Regions from separate parts of the Homo sapiens genome. Here region 2 is linked to region 1. The links come from fine-mapping of genetic effects on gene expression. Tissue or cell type: whole blood. Region 1 holds a variant in brackets; the other region holds the start of a gene. All regions are shown on one strand. Distances are from middle to middle. Region 1 holds the start of LOC124901258 (a long non-coding RNA gene). Region 2 holds the start of ADTRP (androgen dependent TFPI regulating protein).

Region 1 (9,264 bases):
AATGTCTTCTACCTAAGGACTTGTAAGTTGATTTTCAGTTCACATATCTGACCCTTGTTTTTCTTTTCCTTTTTGGGGATGAAGAAGATGAAAAGCACCTAAGGCCACTGCTGTTATTGGGGAAAATTGTAGTGGCTATAAAAATGAGTAGTAGAGGCCAGGAGGTTGGTTTGTCAGTACCTGGGCGGGTGTCCCCATGATGCAGGTAATTAGGATGTTGGAGAAAGAAATGCCACAGGATGGGAGCCAGGTACAAGTGCATCGTTATCCATTCAGTGGTTCACCAGCGCCAGGCACTGTGCTAAAATATGGAGGATACAGTGAAGTTCAGGAAACCTGCTACCTTTAGAGGCTGTCCGGGAAAGAGGAGCATAACAGACAGTGGGAGACAGGGTGATAGGACTGTAATAGGCATAAGCCCAGGATGCTATGGGCACACAGAGAGATGTGCAGGACTGGCTTCTTAAAGGGAAGCACTGTCTAAGCTGAGGCCCAAGGAATGAATAAGAATAGGTCAAAAGAGACATGGAAAAGACCTTCAGGCAGAAAAAACAGCATCTGCAAAGGGCTGGAGGAGCTGAGGGTATGGCTGAATTGGAGGACAGGGTAAAGCCAGGTCGTAAATCCACATTAGTGCGTTTGGACTTTTAAACCAAGTGCTTTTCTGTAGAAAAGTGTTATAATCAGAGGAATGAAATGATGTGGTTTATGTAAGAAAGCTGATTAGAAAGATGATTCTGGCTGAAGTGTGGACATTAGACTGAAGAGGAACAAGACAGGTAGACCAGTTGGTGGCATTGCTGGTAACTCAGGGGAGTTGATGTTAGCCAACTGATGATAACATCAGTCAATCCACAAATAAAATCAGAGAGTGTGAACAATGGGAGGTGACTTAGAGATGACTTAGCATTGGAAAACTAAATCTCCAGTAGGGTAGATGACATGCCCATGGTCATATGGCAGAGGTGGGGTAGAGATGCAAAGCTGGTACTTGAGCCAACTAAAACTGAGGTCTCCTCTCTCCAAATCCAGTTGTCTTTCCACTGTGTTTACATGGCCAGGTATTTGTTCAATTCCCAGTGTGTGCAAAACCATTCAGCTAAATGCTGGATGGATGGGCATGCACAAAGCTTGACCTAGCTCTGCACTTTGAAATCTTTCACGTGTTGTTCCCAGCTCTATGTGCTTGGATTAGACATTAAAGTACTGGTAATGAAGGGAGTGGAGGGAAGGGATGGAGACCTGTCACCAGCAGGAACGTGACTGGGTGAGCCCCAGTGCCCAGTGGGGAGCTGAGGTGGTTTGGGATTTCGTCCTTCATGAAAAATGCTAAGTTGGTATTTGGTCCACTAAGCCCCATTTTTGCTAGAACAAATCAAATATAGACACTTAAAGGAGGGTGTTTGATGTGATCCTGTTGATGGAAGCATCTCTATTTCTGCTCACGCCCTGGTTAGAGGAGCTCAGACTCTTTGGTGCCTGCCAACCCCACCCTTACGCAGTTTCCAGGGCCCCTGGCTCCTCACAGCCACAGATGGCCATGAAGTTCTACAAACTGCAGACACCCATGGAGACGTTTTAGGGAAGTGGCTATGGGCCCACTGTCAGATGTGCCAGTTTGGACAGTCAAATGGGGAAATGGCATAACACGAATGAGGTAAAGAGCATGGGCTCGGGCCAGAGGGAGCGTGAGAAACGAACATGAGTCAGGAAAACGGCACTGAAGCTGAGCTGGAGAAGCATTTCACCGCCGAAACCATGTTCAAATGACCTAAAAATAGTTCCTGAGACCGTGGGGACCGCCTTACATGTGGTGGTTGCTTTTAGTTATTTTTCAGATTGCAAAATTGAAGAGCTCTCCCCTAAGTGGGAAAATAAAGCTTTGCAAAATAGTAATGACTGCAAAGCTTTCATTTCCTTTGGAAAGCATTAGTCACCTTTAAATATGGTAGCTCACTTATTTCTCCCTTCTCTCCTACCCCAAAACACCTCACCTAGTTCTCCCTGAGGCAGTGGTGAGGAGCAAAAAAATAGAAATGTTCCTTCTGCTGGTTTTTATTCTTTCTTTTATTGAATAAATATTTTCCCTAACACATGGTTGGTCCTGCCCAGAAAAGCAATGTTATATCAGGCCAAGCTTCAGCCTGCAGGGGGTTTATCCTTAATAAGTGGAGATGACCCATGCATACAAATTATAAGTGCAGAAGATGGAAAGTGGTAAAACCTCATAAAAAAAACACAAGGAGCCACAGAAAAGGAAGAGTTTGCATCCAGCTGAGCGGTGTGGGAAGGGCACTGTGGAAGGCATGCATTGGATCTGAGCCCTGAAGGACCGGCAGGATTGGAGCTAGAAAAAATGAGAGAAGGTAAACAAAAGGAGCACAGTCCCAAGGCCAGGAGAGTGCAGAAAGCGTGAGAGCAAGGGTCAGTAATTCTCTTTGCTGGACCTGTTTGTGAAAGAGACTAATGAGAAATATCCCTGGAACTACCCACTCATGAAGGCTTGCAGATGGCAGACTAGAGGATGTTGGACATAGTATAGAAAATGGGAGCATTTGTTGTTGCTGTTGTTTGTTTGTTTGTTTGGAGTGGAAGCAAGGGTGAGCAGTATTTGTAACTTGGCCAGCAAATTATGCTTTAAAATGTCATTCTTGACAATAGTGCTTCAAATAAGTTGGAGTGACAAGAGATGGGAAACAAAATAAAATATAAACCAATATAAAAATAAAAACTAGCCAGCACATTATGTACTTTGATCACAATGTCTTAGTTTTTATGTATGGTTATTTCACAGTTCCAGTGATATCCCCAAGCACCCTTCTGCCTTGGAGGTCTTGGTCCAGTTTTCCAAGGAGTTCCAATAATCTGCTGAGTGCTCACACATGCCCCTGTCGTGCACTGCACAACCCATGCTGCACACTGTTCTGAGCATTGTTCTTACACACAGATAGCAAAACTGTAATCCCCACTGGGTCCAACATCCCCACCTGGCACAGTGTTAAGGGTTAGCACACCATGCCCACTGCTGATGCCAACAGTGTCATTTACCCATCAGCCCCCTGTGTTGGTAGAATTAACAATGTTACTCGCCACAGCAACCACCCCAGCTGGCCTGGAGTGCATCATCACACTGCTCTTGGTAGACCAGAAACCTACTGATGCTGCAGGTGTCCCTGCTAGTGTGTAAAGTATTGCATGCCCCGTACAAACACTGCACAGATATGCAGCTGTCACCCAGCCTTGGGGCAGATGTTTGTAAAGTCCCTTCCCCAAAGTAGTTGCTATGAGGCAAGAGAGAGAATTACTTTCTTTTATACTGTGCTCTCCAGGGTAAGATCCCTCAGCAAAGCTTCCTGGGTTCCCAGAAGTAACAGTTCTTTAAATTCATGCCTCATTTACAAATACATGTACACATCTTACCCTGAGAATACATTAAAAACTGCCAAGGGGTGGACTAAGCTGAGTTCCAGGACCAGCCACCTTGCCATTTCCAGAATCAGCAATTCTCTTCTTCTCTTTCTGGTTTTTATTCATTTTTCTATTGAATAAATATTTTCCCTAACACATGGTTGGTCCTGCTCAGAACCAACCATGTTGTGAACTCCCTACCAGAGCCACTGTTACCGTTTCCAAAATATGACCTTCAACTGAGATCATCCAGGTCAACCATAGCTTTATAACCTCAACTCAGCAGGGATTGGAATCTCAGCACCATTTTCCACAGAAGAAATCCTTACCCTACCTGTAAATTCATATATGAAAATTAATTAAAAAGATGCCACACAACACATCCTTGTTGTCAACATGCGGGGTCCAGCCCAGCCAGGATCCAAACTGAAGAGGGATGGAGGTGGAGGACTAGGAGAGGAGAGGGTATCTCATCTCCTGCTCTTCTCATCTTTCCTGTTCAAACCTTAGTTCTTATTCAACCAAAATGCCTGTAACAGAAATCAGAAATAATAACGGCATGAAGAGAGTAAAACTGTAGAATCAGAAATGAGAGACATGCCTGAGACACATTGTTGAAACAACAGAATAGGTTTTATGGATTGATTGACATGTACCACACAAATGAAAAGGAAAAATTAGGATAATTCTAAAAATTTTAAGTTAGTAGACAAGAAAAATGGTGATTCCATTGATAGATGAAAATGAATTGTGAAAGTAATCGTCTTGGGTATAAGTAAAACAGTCAGTTTAATATCCCATATCTAGGTCTCATTTCAAAAATACTCTGGTTTAATTGGTTCAGGATATGCCCTCAGCATTGGAATTTTTAAGGCCCTCAAGTCAATTCTAATTTTGAGACAAGATTGAGAATCACCTGCCTGGAGGAATTTCCATTCAGAAATTCAGACCCTGCAGTCTCAAGAAAGATGGGGCTGAGGAGATGCAGCTAGTTGAACCCTCGTGGAGTGACAAGATTGCTGGAAAGAGAGAGAGGAGAGAGGGAAGATAAGTAAGAAGCAAACACCAGGGAAAGGCCCTCCTCTCAGGGACAGGAGGGGGAAGGAGCAGCAAAGGTAGCAAGGAATTACCAGGTAGTAGAAGGGCAGGAAGTTAGAAAACCATGGGCCCTGAAGGCAGAGAGGCTTCAAACTGGAAGGGGGTGTCTCAGGGAGGGGTTGGGCAACAGCTCTAAATGCCGTGATGAGGTTGCCACCCCAATGACTCTCATCACTGCCGACACCTCAACATCTAGGTAAACTATTTGACTAACACTCTAGCCTTGCAGTTTCTCCTGACTCTTTCTGTTTGATTTATTCTCCTGGGCTGGAAAGACGTGACCTGAGGGTTAACACCGAAAGAAAGAATTATATGCCCAAAGCCCACAAAACTCCGTTATCTGTTTATCTGCCACCCACAGACGTCGGTATTTCTCTACTGATAAGACGCAGAAGTTATGAATTTCTTGACAGCCATTATAATGCTCTAAGATTTAGGATAAGGAGACCCTAAAAGATTAATTTTTGGCTGCCATTTGGTGCCCACCCAGTCCAACTCACAGAGGTTCACGTAGCAGATGGCTCAAGAAAGATGTGAAATTGCTCTTTGAACTGAGGGGCAACGTCATTGGCCTCTTCAAAGTATTAGTAAAGTGAGATTAACCAAAACTTGAAAGGCCACTGGGTACATTTCCAAATTTCCAGAGCCTGTGGTGGTCTTGGTGAGTCAGGCGACTGAGAGCCGTCCATAGCAGTGTCCTACAGAGCCACCCAACACAGCCATTCATTTCAAAATTCAAAGAACCTGCTGCATTTTGGGCACTTGGCAAATAAATGTGCCTGACAGAGACAGTCCCTGCCCCTGCAGAGCTTTCAAGCTAGTGAGAAAAACAATCAAATAAGTAACAAAGGTAAGTTCCAGGGTGGAGGAAGCACCTGGCGTAAGCATTTACCCGAATCAGGGTTGGGGGAGAGAGCTTCAGGAAATC[T/C]TTTCTAGAGAAATAGACTTTTAAGCTGAGATTTGAAGCGTGAGTAAGATTCAGCCAGACACAGGGCAAAGAGAAGTAGGTTCCAGGAAACAAAAAGGTCAGAGGTGTACCCAGTGAAGACAACAGCAGGTGTGAAAGCCAAGAAACTGCAGCGCTCAGTTCACTCAAGAAACAAAGGGGTTCAATATGGATGGACTGCAGATCTCCAGATGGAAGCGGGGCATGGCCAGGCCAGGTAAGCAGCTGGGATCCTGGGATTCACTGCAGGCAGGGGAGGGCTGTGGACAGAGCTCGCTTTTAGGAAGATTACCGGATTACTGATGGCTTGCAATAGGGGAAGTGGGTTGAAAGGAGCAAGAAAGCCTAGTTGGTAGACAATGACAGAAACCCAAATGGAATGAAGGAGGCTGAAGGAAGATTGTGAAATGTGTGCGCTGAAGAAACATTTAGAAGGAAGTTTAGTATAGATATGATTTCATGGGATCAAACTTGGGGGCAAGATTGAATGGAGGGCTGACATTGGCTGAAATAGAAGACATGTTGAATGCAAAGTTCCCTCCCTCCCTCCCTCCCTCCCTCCCTACCTACCTCCCTCCCTCCCTGCCTCCCTTCCTTCCTTCTTTCCGTCCTTCCTTCCTTCCTTCCTTCTTCTTTCCCCTCTCTCTTCCCACCTTCCCCTCATATTCAGGCAAGCCATAAAGAAGTGATGTCAACTAACAGTGTGACTCTGTCCTCATTCACGCCTCTCTGCTGAGTACCCTTGGTAAATTACTATCATCTTGCCTCATACTCTGTATCTCTGTTAATTTTCCTACTGTCAGGTACCACACCTATAACTTTCCTTACACTTTATCTGTGAAAGTACACAATTCATTAGCTTACCTCGGGAACTTTCTTTTACAAGCCTTATGCTGAAGGAAACAAACATGAAGTAAACAGAAATTTTCCAAGCCTCTGGGGGGATGTCCTTATTTATAGACTATCTTACATAAATGTGCATGGGAATTCAGAAGCCCTAATTTCAACTATATAAAGTAAACAAAGTGAACTAAGTGATGCAACTTTTTGGAGTACATTCAGAGCTCCTCACTGACTCCAAACTCCTAGCCCTATCTACTTGAAACTGTTTATTTTCTATGCCATATACCTTCTTTGTCCTGCCATGAGAAGTAGCCATGCAGGTAAGAATCACTGTGGGCATCCTGTAATGCATCCATGGAACGCATATCTTAAAGAACTCTAGGCTGGCCATGGTGGCTCATGCTTGTAATCCCAGCACTTTGGGAGGCTGAGGTGGGCGGATCACAAGGTCAGGAGTTTGAGACCATCCTGACCAACATGGTGAAACCCTGTCTTTACAAAAAATACAAAAATTAGCTGGGCATGGTGGCGCACGCCTGTAAACCCAGCTACTCGGGAGGGTGAGGCAGGAGAATCGCTGAACCCAGGAAGCGGAGCTTGCAGTGAGCCGAGATTGCACCACTGCACTCCAGCCTGAGCAACAGAGTGAGACTCCATCTAAAAAAAGAAAAAGAATTCTAATATTAGTAACAATGATGATAATTATTGTTTGTTCTAGTCACCTCATTCTCAATCTGGGAGGAACATCCAGACAAGTTTGGGAAAGCAGAGTGATACCAGCAGGGCCCAGGCGAGGAACTAAATGCCAACCCTACATTTATATGACCCTAAAATTGACACCTCCTTAGATACATTTAAATTGTGGTAAAAGGTACACAATATTTACAACTTTAACGATTTTAAGTGATTTACCATTTTGATCATTTTTAAGCTCTGTAGCATTTTGTACATTTACCTTGTTGTGCATCCATCACCACCATCCATCTCCAGAACTTTTACATCTTCCCAAACTGAAAGTCTACCCGTTAAACAATAACTCCCTGGCTCAGTCCATTTTGTGTTGCTATAAAAGGATATCAGAGATTGAAAAGAGGTTTATTTAGTTCATATTCTGCAGGCTGAGAAGTTCAAGGGCATGGCCCTGGCTGCCGACAAGGGCCTTACTGCTGCCTCACAATGTGGTGGAGAAGATCAAAGGGGAAATGGACACGTGTGAAAAGGGCAAAACCTGAGGGGCACCCTAGATTTATAACAACCCATTCTCATAGAAAAAATCCATTTCTAGAGCTTACTATCACAAGAACAGCATCAAACCATTCTTAGGAGATCCAACCCCATGACCCGAACACCTCCCACTAGGCTCCCCCTCCCAACACCAACACACGCAGGACCAAATTTCAACATGAGTTTTGGTACGAACAAACAAACCATATTGAAACCATAGATAGCATTCCCCGCTGCCTCCTCCCGCAACCACATGGCAAGCACCATTCTACTTTCTCCCTCTATGAATCTGACATTCTAGGTTTCTCATATAAATGGAATTATACAGTATTTGTCCTTTTACGACTGGTTTATTTCACTTACCATGTCTTCAAAGTTGATCTGTGTGGTAGCATGTGTCAGAATGTTCTTCCTTCTTAATGCCTATGTATAAGCCACATTTTATTTATCCATTCATCTATCAGTGGGCACTTGGGGAGATTCCACCTTCAGGCTATTGTGAATAATGCTGCTATAAACATGGGTGTACAAATATCTCTTCAGATCCCTGTTTTCAATTCCTTTTTTTTTTTTTTTTGAGATAGAGTCTCATTCTCTCGCCCAGGCTGGAGTGCAGTGGCGCGATCTCCAATCACTGCAAGCTCTGCCTCCCAGGTTCATGCCATTCTCCTGCCCTCAGCCTCCCAAGTAGCTGGGACTACAGGCACCTGCCACCACGCCTGGCTAATTTTTTGTATATTTAGTAGAGATGGGGTTTCACCATGTTAGCCATGTTTTCAGTTCTTTTGGGTGTGTACCCAGAAGTGGAATTGCTGGATCAGATGGTAATTCTATTTTAATTTTGGGGAGAACCACCATATAGTTTTCCAAGGCAGATGTACCATCTTCCATTCCTACCAACAATGAACAAGGGTTCCAATTTCTCTATGTCCTTACTAACACTTGTTATCTTGTCTTTTTAAAAAAAATATAGTATCCATCCTAATGAGTGTAAGACAATATCTCACTGTCATTTTGATTTGCATTTCTTCTAGTTATTAGTGATGTTGAACATCCTTTCATGCATTTGTTGGCCTTTTATGTATCTTCTCTGTAAAAGGTCTATTCAAGTCCTTTGTCCATTTTTAATTGAGTTATTTGGGTTTTTTGTTATTGTTGAGTTACAGGAATATTTTACATATTTTGGATATTAACCCCTTATTAGAGATATGATTAGAAATATTGTTTCCCATTCCATGGATTGCCTTTTCACACTGTTTATTGTGTCCTTTGTTGCAGAGATGATCCCTTAAGTTTTACACCCTAGGGCCTCTCTTGCTTCACCCTACTCCCGGTCCTGAATATAGCCCTTGACTCTTCCACAAACCATTTAACAAACTTCAAGTATTTGAAATGACAGAGATCACCCTTGGGTTTCTGAAAGTTTAAGCACAGAATTTCATTCTTCCATCTGAATTCCTTTGACAACGTGGGATATTCAAATTTAAATATTGTTTTTGAAGCATAACCTGGCCTATCCTAATTGCTACAAGAGATCAGCAGCTTCAAAGAAGGCTTTCTGAGAGCACTCCCATTGTGCCATCCCTCAGTGGAGATGGAAGCTTTTGAACTCTTGTCAAATATTACAATGTGCCAAGCACTGTTCTGTGTCTTTTACATGTGTTAACTCCCGTAATCTTTACAACAGCCTTAGAAGGTGTATGCTGTTTGGATCTTCACTTTACACATTGAGGAGATGGGGACAG
Region 2 (10,529 bases), 49 kb before region 1:
GGATGCCACACGAGGATGGAGAGAGCCAGTGGGAAGTGGGCAGGTTATTAAAAGCTATGAAACTTGGATGTAATGCTGTGGGTGATGCTGATGTAGTAAAACGACATGAGCTGGTGGGGGATGTGGCATTTCAGAGAGAATCACTCACTGACCTTGTGAAAAACAGCGTTGGGGCATCAAACTAGATTCAGGAAAACCAGCTAGGTTGCTGGTTGCTATGGTGGTGGCAAGAGATGGAGGCCACTTGAACGAGGGCAGTTGTAGAAGGGATGGAAAGAAAGGGACTGATTTGACCCTGATGTAAGAAATGAACTTGGCAGGATTTGGTGGTTAACTGGATTTGAAGAGTAAAAAAGCGGGAGGACACAGGAAGCTCCCAGGTCGATGGTGAGGCCATGGTCACAGGACAGAGACTAGAGAAGAAAAGCCTGGTTTGGCGGAAGTCAGTGAGCTCGTTTTAGACGTATGGAGTTTGAGGCGTGTCTGTCTCCTTCAGGAGATTCCAACAGGTAGTCAAAGATGTGTTTGAAGCTTGGTGGGGATAGGGAGAGGGCCTGGACCAGAGGTATATAATTTGTGGTCACAAACTGGAAGGCAGTGGTAGAAATTATGATCATGGATAAAATCACTAGGGTGAGTATGTGTTGGGAGACGGACGGTAAGCTGGACCAGCTCTCTGGGGAATGCCAACACAGAAGGAGCTGGTGGAGGAAGAGGAGCTCATTAAACAGACTGAGAAGGATAGTAAGAGCATGTTGGGAGAATAAGCCTTGCTCATACGTGGCTTCCTTAGGGCTAGCTTCCCTGACGCCCTACCCACACCAGGTCTGATACTGCCATCCCCTCTAATAAGTCTGCTGTGTTTGTCCTTCACAGAAGTTGCCATAGTTATAAATTAACACTTGTTTTTGTTGTTGCTTAATGTTCATCTTTCCTGCTAAAATATAAGCTCCATGAGGGCAGGGTTTGCATCGCTCTTCTTCCTCGGGGAATCCCCAGGACCTAGCAGATAGCTGTTGCTTAATAAGTATTTGTGAAATTAAAGAATCATGTTGCGGACTCCCAGGGGGGTAGAGAGTTTCAAAGAAAGTCACTCTTAGTAACCAAGTGGCCTGTGTAGTATCCAAATCAAAGTATGAAATATGCTTATTTTTAAATGTTTAAAATTTCCTGTGTAAAATAATAAAAGTTTTGAACAATTCCTTCCCACTTCTCCTGGATATGACGTGAAGCCCTCAGATACTTGGAGAAAGGAAAAGGCAGACAAACAGCACGCTTAGTATGTATTAGTTTATAACGTGCAACTAAGAGGTGACATTCATTGCTCTCCAAAGCTCCACCTGGTCTCATGGTGGGGAACAGATGTTCAGGCTACTTCATGAAAATGGATCTGGTTATTCAACCAGGAACACAAATTATGATGTGAATATGGTTGCAATGTAGATTTTTCATTGGCAACAATTTTGTGAAAAGTTTATAAGAAAATGCAGATGTTGAATTAAGAAATAGTTTTATTTCTTAAAATATTAAAATATTTCTTAAGAAATAAAACTATTTCTTAATTCATAATCCTTAACTCATAATGTAATCCTTATATACATATATTACATGTAATTATTAAATCCTTATATACATATACATGTTATTTATTAAAATATCATTTTATTAATTATTAATATGTATTAAAATGATATTACATGTTATTAAATCCTTATATATTAATGTCATTATTTATTAAAATGCTAACAATTCATTGGATCCCAATGTAAAACACTAAAACTCTTACAAATAAATTTAAATAATTTTATCAATATTTATGAGAGGCCCCATCTGTGGGCAATGAGGCTAACGTAGAGAAAAAAACCATCTAGGTGGTGAAAGGCCAGTGTCCAGGTTTGGACACACACATCTCAGAGATTTGGGTCTTTGTCTTCCCCTCCTTTCCTACCTTTGCGTCAATCCTTACCCATCTGCAGACTTAGACTTGAGATTTTTTTTTGTATAAAGGAATAAAACCTCTAAATCAACAATGGTGTCTAAAATGAAAACACCCTTGGAGACATTCATTCATTCATATGTGCACCAAGTTTCAAAACATATTGATCCTTTTCTGAGATAATTTTCTGATGAGAGGAGAGAAGAATAAAAGGGACTCGGCCGGGCTCGGTGGCTCACGCCTGTAATCCCAGCACTTTGGGAGGCCGAGATGGGCGGATCACGAAGTCAGGAGATCGAGACCATCCTGGCTAACACGGTGAAACCCCGTCTCTACTAAAAATACAAAAAAAATTAGCCGGGCGTGGTGGCAGGCGCCTGTAGTCCCAGCTACTCGGGAGGCTGAGGCAGGAGAATGGCGTGAACCCGGGAGGCGGAGCTTGCAGTGAGCCGAGATCGCGCCACTGCACTCCAGCCTGGGCGACAGAGCGAGACTCCATCTCAAAAAAAAAAAAAGGGGCACTCAGTAGGGAGAGGAGAAATATCAAAGTGGGAGTCTGAGAGTGTGCAGAGCAACATTGTTCCTTTGTAGGCAGGTACACTGGTTGTATTAGGGTTCTCTAGAGGGACAGAACTAATAGGATGTATGTATATAAGAAGGGGAATTTATTAAGAAGTGACACACAATCACAACAACAGGCCGTCTACAAGTTGAGGAGCAAGAAAGCCAGTGGTGGATCAGTCCGAGTCTCAAAACCTCAAAATTAGAGAAGCCAACAGTGCAGCCTTCAGTCTGTGGCCAAAGGCCCGAAAGTCCCTGGCAAACCATTGGTATACATCTAGGAGTCCAAAAGCTGAAGAACTTGCAGTCCGATGTTCGAGGGCAGGAAGCATCCTGAGAGCATGGGAGAAAGATGAAGTCCGGAAGACTCAGCAAGTCTAGTCCTTCCACGTTCCTCTGCCTGCTTTATCCTAGCCACGCTGGCAGCTGATTAGATGGTGCCTACCCAGACTGAGGGTGGGTTTGCTTCTCCCAATCCACTGACTCAAATGTTAATCTCCTTTGGCAACACCCTCACAGACACACCCAGCAGCAATACTTTGCATCCTTCGAACCAATCAAGTTGACACTCAATATTAACCATCACACTGAGTTCAGACGGCAGCTCTGCCTCTTACAAAGTGTTGAACACATCCTTTTAGCAGATCGGGCTTCAATTTCCTCATCTGAAAATGTACTTAATTCGTAATAGTACTTACCTCATAGTGTTATTTAGAGTGCTAATCAGCTAATATGTGTAAAGCAACTGGAACAATGTTTAGCAAACAGTAAGTACTATAAAAGTATTAGCTTCTGTTATTATTTGCAATTTAGCCCAGGCTGTGGAGTTTTGTACAGAGTTTTATGTACCCATTTCCCAGATCACCCCTTCCTTTGAGAATGGTTTGCTATGGTCTATGTTTGTGTTCCCTGCAAATTCCTATGTTGAAATCTTAACTCCCAGGGTGATGGCATTAGGAGAGGGGAGCTTTCCGAGGTGATTAGGTCATGAGGGCAGCATCTCCATGAATGGGATTAGTGACCTTATAAAACAGGCCTCAGGGAGCTTGTTTGCCCCTTCTACCACATGAGGACTCAGCCAGAAGGCACTATTTATGAACCAGGAAACCGACCCACATTAAACACCAGGCACTCTGTCAGCATCTTGATGTTGGACTTCCAGCCTCCAGAACTGAGAAATAAATTTCTGTTGTTTCCAAGCTTCCCAGTTTACAGTATGTTGTTATAGCAGCCCCAACAGATGAAAAAAAAAAAAAAAAAAAAAAACATGGTTACAATGCAGAACTCCATGGCGGGCTCAGGTTTGCTCTCCTCCCATCTCCCAATCCTGATATTGGGAGTCTGTTGACTCTTAGGAGGTGGGTTTGTTTATGGTTTGTCCTCCTTGTCCAGCCTACAGTTCTTTCTGCTAGTACTTTTAAGCCCTGGTTAAGTCATTGAAAAGCACCAATTACAGACTTACATAACTGTGTCAGGAGCATTTCTCTGAGGGATTTGCTCACCCCTCGGAGTCAGTTGCCCAGGGAAACAAGCTGGCGATGTCACAAGGCATCCACTTCTAGTTCTTCCTCAGTTCCCTTCTGTGGAACCTGAGTCAGAGCCTAGTCCGGCATGCTGCCTAGCCCAGCCACGTCTCATCCTATTCATGGCAGAGCGGGGACTCTCACCCTCTCCCAGCAATGTCTAAAGTCAGGTATTTTGGGGTCATGGCCATAGTAAGGATGGTCTCCTGTGCTGCTTCTTCCCTCCCAGGGCACAGAAATGCCTATGCAAATGGAGTGTCTAGGACAGCCCTGGGTTACTCTTGGTTCTCTAGGGTATAGTTACAAAAGTGAAAAAAAAAAGAAAAGAAACCATTGGAGCTGCTCCCTGGAGGATCAAAGGTTGTTGCAGACTTTCTAGAATCTCAGAGACCTCAGGAGCAAAATTACAACACACTTTTCCTTTCTACTGTTCATGCCCTAAGCACACCCATGATCTGGTTTATCAACCTGCTCCTCCTTTTCTCAAGAGATAAGGTTGCAACTTCCTTGTTATATGCAAATGAAAAGAAAAGAGACTACAGCCATGGAAGTATTTCGCTAGATTTTCCTAGTATTTCATGCTTACTTCATTTAACCATGCCCCTGCCCCAGTGCCCTAGTGAAACAGTACAATGTACAGCTCTTGCATTGCTACCTGCCCTTCTCAAAGCCCACATGTTGTATTTTATGCAAATCTACAGATTATCTATCATTATCTAAATGCAGGCATCTGAAAACCAGCAGTAATCCTGCCTCTGAAGTTTATCAGGAAAGGAGCTTAAAAGAGAACCAAATTCAGCCTGTGTTGGAACTCTCAGTCCCAGAGGGGTGTGGTTTGTAGCTCTCCGGCCTGCTGTTGGACTTAGGCTGTGACCCACAGAAGGACGCCAGAAAGTACTCAAGACATTCACGGTGCCCCGGTCAGCACTCGCCATGACGAAGACTTCTACATGCATATACCACTTCCTTGTTCTGAGCTGGTATACTTTCCTCAATTATTACATCTCACAGGAAGGAAAAGACGAGGTGAAACCCAAAATCTTGGCAAATGGTGCAAGGTGGAAATATATGACGCTGCTTAATCTGGTAAGTCCATATGTCCGTACCAGGAACCGATCCATTTCTCTAGAATATCAGTGCTGCCACACATATCATCTTTGGATTTTATTAAATACACAATTTTGTTATTTGTCTTCCTTCTTCACCGTTTTGTGAGTTTTGGGTTTTTTGTTTACTTAACAATTTGCTCTGATAAACCCAATTTGGAAATTATCTATAGTTAACATTTCTATGCTGGCTCATTGTTAAATGCTCTCTTGAAAAAAAAAATCTCATCTTGGAGCTCTTTTCAGATGAGCTCAAAGAGGGGACCATGCTAATGGTTTCACCATGGGATTAACTACAAATGCAGGAGGCATTTTGAACTTTGCTTGGGGAAGTCTGTGAAGAGAAGGCAGAGTGGCGTATGGTGTGTAGGAAGTGTAATTTCCAATGAAGGAATAATGCCATTTTACAGCACACACAGACTAACAGATTTATCTAAGAAAAGCAAACACATTTTGCCATGTTCAGCTCCCACCTCAATTTTTTATAGGTTCAGGCTCCATCTTAAAGGACAAATCACCCAACCGAATGGCAAATACACATTTTCAACTATTTAAAAACCAATCTTATGACTTACTCCTTTCTTGTCTTCCTAACCTGGCTGACTGCATTCTGATGAAGTGTGAATGAATGGGAGAAAAGCAGATTATGAAAAATACTTTGAGGAATAGCTTAAAAAAATACTTTTAAAGTTAAAAGCTAATAATGGGGAATCATTTGGGGATGTGAATTAATATTTGAGGTTTTTGACTAAAATCTTGGGTGCCACATAAACATCTGTTTTCAGAATTGTAATCCTCATTTGACAAGCGGAGAATGTATGTGGTCAGAAACTGTGACACTCTGAAATGCTAAGGACGTGGAAATGGAGAGAGTTAAAATCAAAGAGGCCCAAAGTGGCTGCTTCCTCCTCACTGGTTGGTTAGTGGCCTCTTGATTTGGGCCTGAAAAATTGGAACCCTGAACACAGCTCTAGTGTCTTTGAAAACTTCAAGGTGACTACTTGTTTCAATCATGGAATTTTATGAGAAAAACAAACAGAAACAAAACAAAAAATGTTTTTTGTATAACTAGCAGTGCCACAGTAAACAACAACAACAAAAAACCACACACACACACGCGCATACACACACACCCCTAAGGTTTGTGTCTCTATTGGCTTTCTATGAAAAACAGTCCACTAAAAGGGAAGTGTGTCTGTAGTTAGGACTGACTTTCTAATAAAATCCAATTCCAGTATGAATGTCCTACCTCACACTATGTGTGGCTAAGAATAGATTTATCACCACACTCATTAACTAGCTCCCTTACCTCTTTGTATACACACACACACACACACACAACTGATCCTGACTTTTTAATTCTAGCTCACCTACATTTCCAAGAGCCCTTATTTTCCAAGAGTGAGAAAAGTCTCTTATCTTGTCAATGATACTATCATTTCCTAGTGTTAATCCCAATTTTGCTTCCCTGATTGATCAGCTACCAAATCCTATTAGTTTTTCCTTTTACTAAGTTCATCCTTTCTTCTTCAACCTTACTACTGTCTCTCTCATTCCAGGCTTATATTAAGCCTACCTGGATGACCATATCATCTCTTTACTGTCCATTCATGGTCCAATCCAGCCACTTAGATTCCAAATTAATCTTCTCAAAGCACTGGTTTTGGTTTGTTTTTTAATACCATGACCTGGATCTAAAAGTGTGGCCTGCCGCTCAGGAAACCACAGTGGCTCCCTCCTGCCTCATGGACCCAATGTCAAACTCCCGATTCAAGAGCTCACCTGCCCAACCAGCCTTTCGGGTTCCCTCTCCCTGGGAGGCTGGTCTCTTCTGCAGTAAGGACTGCGTCTCACTAGTATTGGTCCTTGGGCTTCCTGCTGTCACTTCTCTGCCCGGTGTTCTCTCTATCCTTAGAAGAAAGGCCTACTTACCTCTCTCCACCACATTGCTTCTTTCATAGAACATTGGGAATCACATATACTCCTCCCAAATCCTTGCTGACCAACTCCAGTCCAAATTTCCTTTTCCTTTCTCTGATTTTCACAGCATCTCTCAGTCTCTGCTGATTTATATGTAGTATTGTTTTCTAATTCCCTCTCTCCCTGCCATGTGAGTCTTAACATTCCAATCAAACTTTGGCTCCAAAACAGAAGTTTTTTTTAATCTTAGGTCCTTGCCAACCCTAACTGTCTATATTTCTACCTTGAATTCAGCACAGTGGCTGGCACAGGATACCCAGATATTAAAAAGCTGCGACTTGGTACGTTGACGTGACCTCAGCCTTTCTGCATCCTCAAGCAGTCCCTCTCTTCTGGTATCTTCTGGCCCTCGTAAATAAGCTGAGAGGGGCTTGCCTGTGGTGATTTTCTTTCTGAGCTCCATTAGGAGTCATCTTGAAAGTGTGACCTAATGAAATGCTTCCCAACTGGTGAAGATGGGTTGAGTGTATTTCAGAGGATCGATTTAATGTAGATTTCGAATATGTTGCTTAAGGTGAAATATTGGACCTGCAAATGTCTAGCTCTTGAGATTCATGGGCTGATTAATGGTTGTGTCTCCTAATGATTAATTAGTGTTCATTCATGACTAATTAATTGGTGGTTGTGTTTATTAAGTCATAAAGGTCTCACAACTTACGCTCACATTCTTATATTTATTTTACCTCACCTTGGGGAAGTTAGTATCCAGTCCTGATTACCAGAAAATTTACACCCCTCCTCGTAAACAGCTTGAATTTCTAATTGGCTGAGTATCATTTTTGTCCCCTTTGTAAGAGCAAAGCCCCCTTTTGTGCCAGTTGGCACTGTGAGCATTGCCCCAGTTCCCCTTGAAGCTATCCCAGGGGACTGGAAGGGGAGACAGACAGGAGACAGGAGACAGACACGAGTTGCACTGAGCTACTCCCCTGGGGTTGGTGGTAGTGGCTAAGGTGCCATTGAGAATTGGTCAGGGTGACCCATTTCTGACTAAGGAGAGTGAAGGTAGGAGAGGACAGATGGGAGTCTCTGCCTAATAAGAGAGTAAACTGACCTCAGTGAAGGGGCCACTGATTCCCTGCTGGGAGGGAGAGGTGGTATTTCACAATGGTTACAATTGCGATCTCTGGGATGGTACCTCAGTCCCACTGCTTACTGCCCCCGAGACCCTGGGCTAGGCACTTCTTTGTGTCTTTCATTTCCACGTCTGTCAAATAGAAATAAAAATAGTACCTAACCATAGGGTAGCCATGGGGGAGAAATGATCTGACAGGTGGGAAGCGCTCAGAATGGCGTCAGCAGGGTGTTAGGCAGTGGACAGTGGGGAGAGAAGATGGGGAGGTGATGGTGAACTTCTCTGGGTAGAGAAGGTGATGCAGGAGGGTGACTTAGTAGAACATCAGTCTCCTCACTGAGCACCTAGGTTGTTGCGGGGTGGAGGCCAGCAGGAGTCATCCACCCCCTTCCCCTTCATGGCTACTATTTCTCCCTCCCCGAGCTGCATGCCCCATCTTCCCAGCTGGAGAAGGACCACTGTCGAGCCACTGCTCTCCCTGCTGTAGCTGCCCGCAGGCACCAGGCCGTCCTGGTGGTAGAGTCTGCAGGCTCCAGCAGACAGCCATGCAGAATGGGGAACCCCAGAGGCTAGGCGTGAGACCAAGGCAGTGCCATGGGTGTCCTCAAGCAGCTTAGGTTGGCTCAGATCATCCAGTGCCTGAGTCCTCCACAAATGCTATGTCCCTTGCTCTCTGTCCACCCCATTTCCATCCAGGGACTGTCCCTAATCCCAGAGAATATGAGCTAGGGGGTTTAGGGCAAGGCTCAGCAGCCACAGCTTGGCTCGCAGAATTCATTCAGTTTATTAGGGTTTCCTCTTTTTAAAGATAAGCTTCCTTCTGAAACATTGTTAGAGGTGGGGCCACATAACTGGGATCTCCAGGGGAGATTCTGAGTGGGCCCCTCCCTCCCCACGCCCCTGACACCCCCTTCAACAACAGAAGCATGACCTTTCCCTCCCTTTTCATAAGTTGCCCAAGCCCCAGGCAGCTCCGTCGTCATCACCCTCAACTTCTCATGATGACAACAGTGGCAATACCACATAAGTCCTTGGGGTTGCTGGCCTGGGGCTGGGGGAACAGAGGAGCTGGGAGGCCTCTATGGGTCTAAACTTCAAGGCAGCCTGTGAACAGTGAGAAGATGGGGTTGAATTTATAGTATGGCACCCACTTCAACACTTGGGGGACCAACCTTAAGTAATAATCTATGGCACTATTTATTTATTTATTTATTTATTTATTTTTGAGATGGAATCTCTCTCTGTTCCCCCAGGCTGGAGTGCAGTGGCACAATCTTGGCTCACTGCAACCTCTGCCTCCTGGGTTCAGGTAATTCTCCTGCCTCAGCCTCCTCAGTAGCTGGGACTACAGCATGCACCACCATGCCTGGCTAATTTTTTTTGTATTTTTAGTAGAGATGGGGTTGCACCATGTTGGCCAGGTTGGTCTCAAACTCCTGACCTTGTGATCCGCCTGCCTTGGCCTCCCAAAGTGCTGGGATTACAGGCGTGAGCCACCGCACCCAACCCCTATGGCACTCTTCAGCAACGTGGAGTCAGAAATACACTTAACTATTTCTGCCTCACAAAGATGCACTTCAATAGCTGAAAGGGTAAGGACTGAGAGAACTATGTGATAGTCACCACCAGCACCCAAAATAAAGCAGCTATAAATTATTGAGCAAGTAACTATGACAGCATTTTGGTAGGTTCTTTGGACGCAGTATAGAGATGAGTGATTGAAGACCTGGCTTCTGAAACCAGAACACTGGCTGTGCTCACTTGCTGTGTGATTTTGAGTGACTTGCCTAACTTCTCTGTGCTTCAGTTTTCTCATGTGCAGTGGATACTCTGATAAGGCACCCAGATCCTCATACCTCCCCAGCGCTGAGGTACTCAGTCCCCAGCTCTCAGGAGTGTTGGCTGCTGATGGTGCAAAGCTGAGATCCCCTCCCAGAATTGCCCTCAGCAGAAGGGAGCTGCCTCGACCAAGGTTTAGGTCCCTCCCTGGCGTTGCTGCCTGCCATAACTGGCATCCAATATGGGGTGCAAATGCTGCACTCCCGGACAGCTCTGAACGAGCAGCTCAGCTCAGAGCTCCTCAAGGGATCAGCTGATTCCATGCAACTGCCCAGCACTTAGCCTCCCCCACTTCAATCCTTCTCCCTTTTTGCCTCTCATAGATGTCTGAGAGCGTTCTTCAGTGAACATCCTGCAGGCACATCTCAGAATCTCAGATTGTTTCCCACGGAACCTGACCTGCATCGTGTAAAATACCAAACATACAGAAAAGGTTTCTCTCCCTCCTCTTCCTCCTCCCCCTTCTCCTCATCATCTTCTTCCACTTCTTCTTTTCCTAATTCCAGATAAAG

The links. PIP is the estimated chance that this variant, and not a neighbour inherited with it, causes the effect.
Region 2: ADTRP starts here. The variant in region 1 is fine-mapped to the expression of ADTRP in whole blood (TOPMed, PIP above 0.99).

The regions. Positions count from the first base shown.
Region 1 is chr6:11,724,732-11,733,995 of GRCh38, reverse strand. All of the region lies in intron 4 of ADTRP (androgen dependent TFPI regulating protein), which reads left to right. It overlaps LOC124901258 (a long non-coding RNA gene), which reads right to left and starts at 6,831. Exons shown (of 2, transcript XR_007059452.1): 1 at 6,582-6,831; 2 at 2,749-3,938. RefSeq lists enhancers at 1,239-1,328, 1,609-1,908, 4,293-4,462 and a cis regulatory region at 4,377. The variant T/C (reference allele first, on the strand shown) is at 5,435.
Region 2 is chr6:11,773,184-11,783,712 of GRCh38, reverse strand. It overlaps ADTRP (androgen dependent TFPI regulating protein), which reads left to right and starts at 4,910. Exons shown (of 6, transcript NM_032744.4): 1 at 4,910-5,106. The coding sequence starts at 4,954.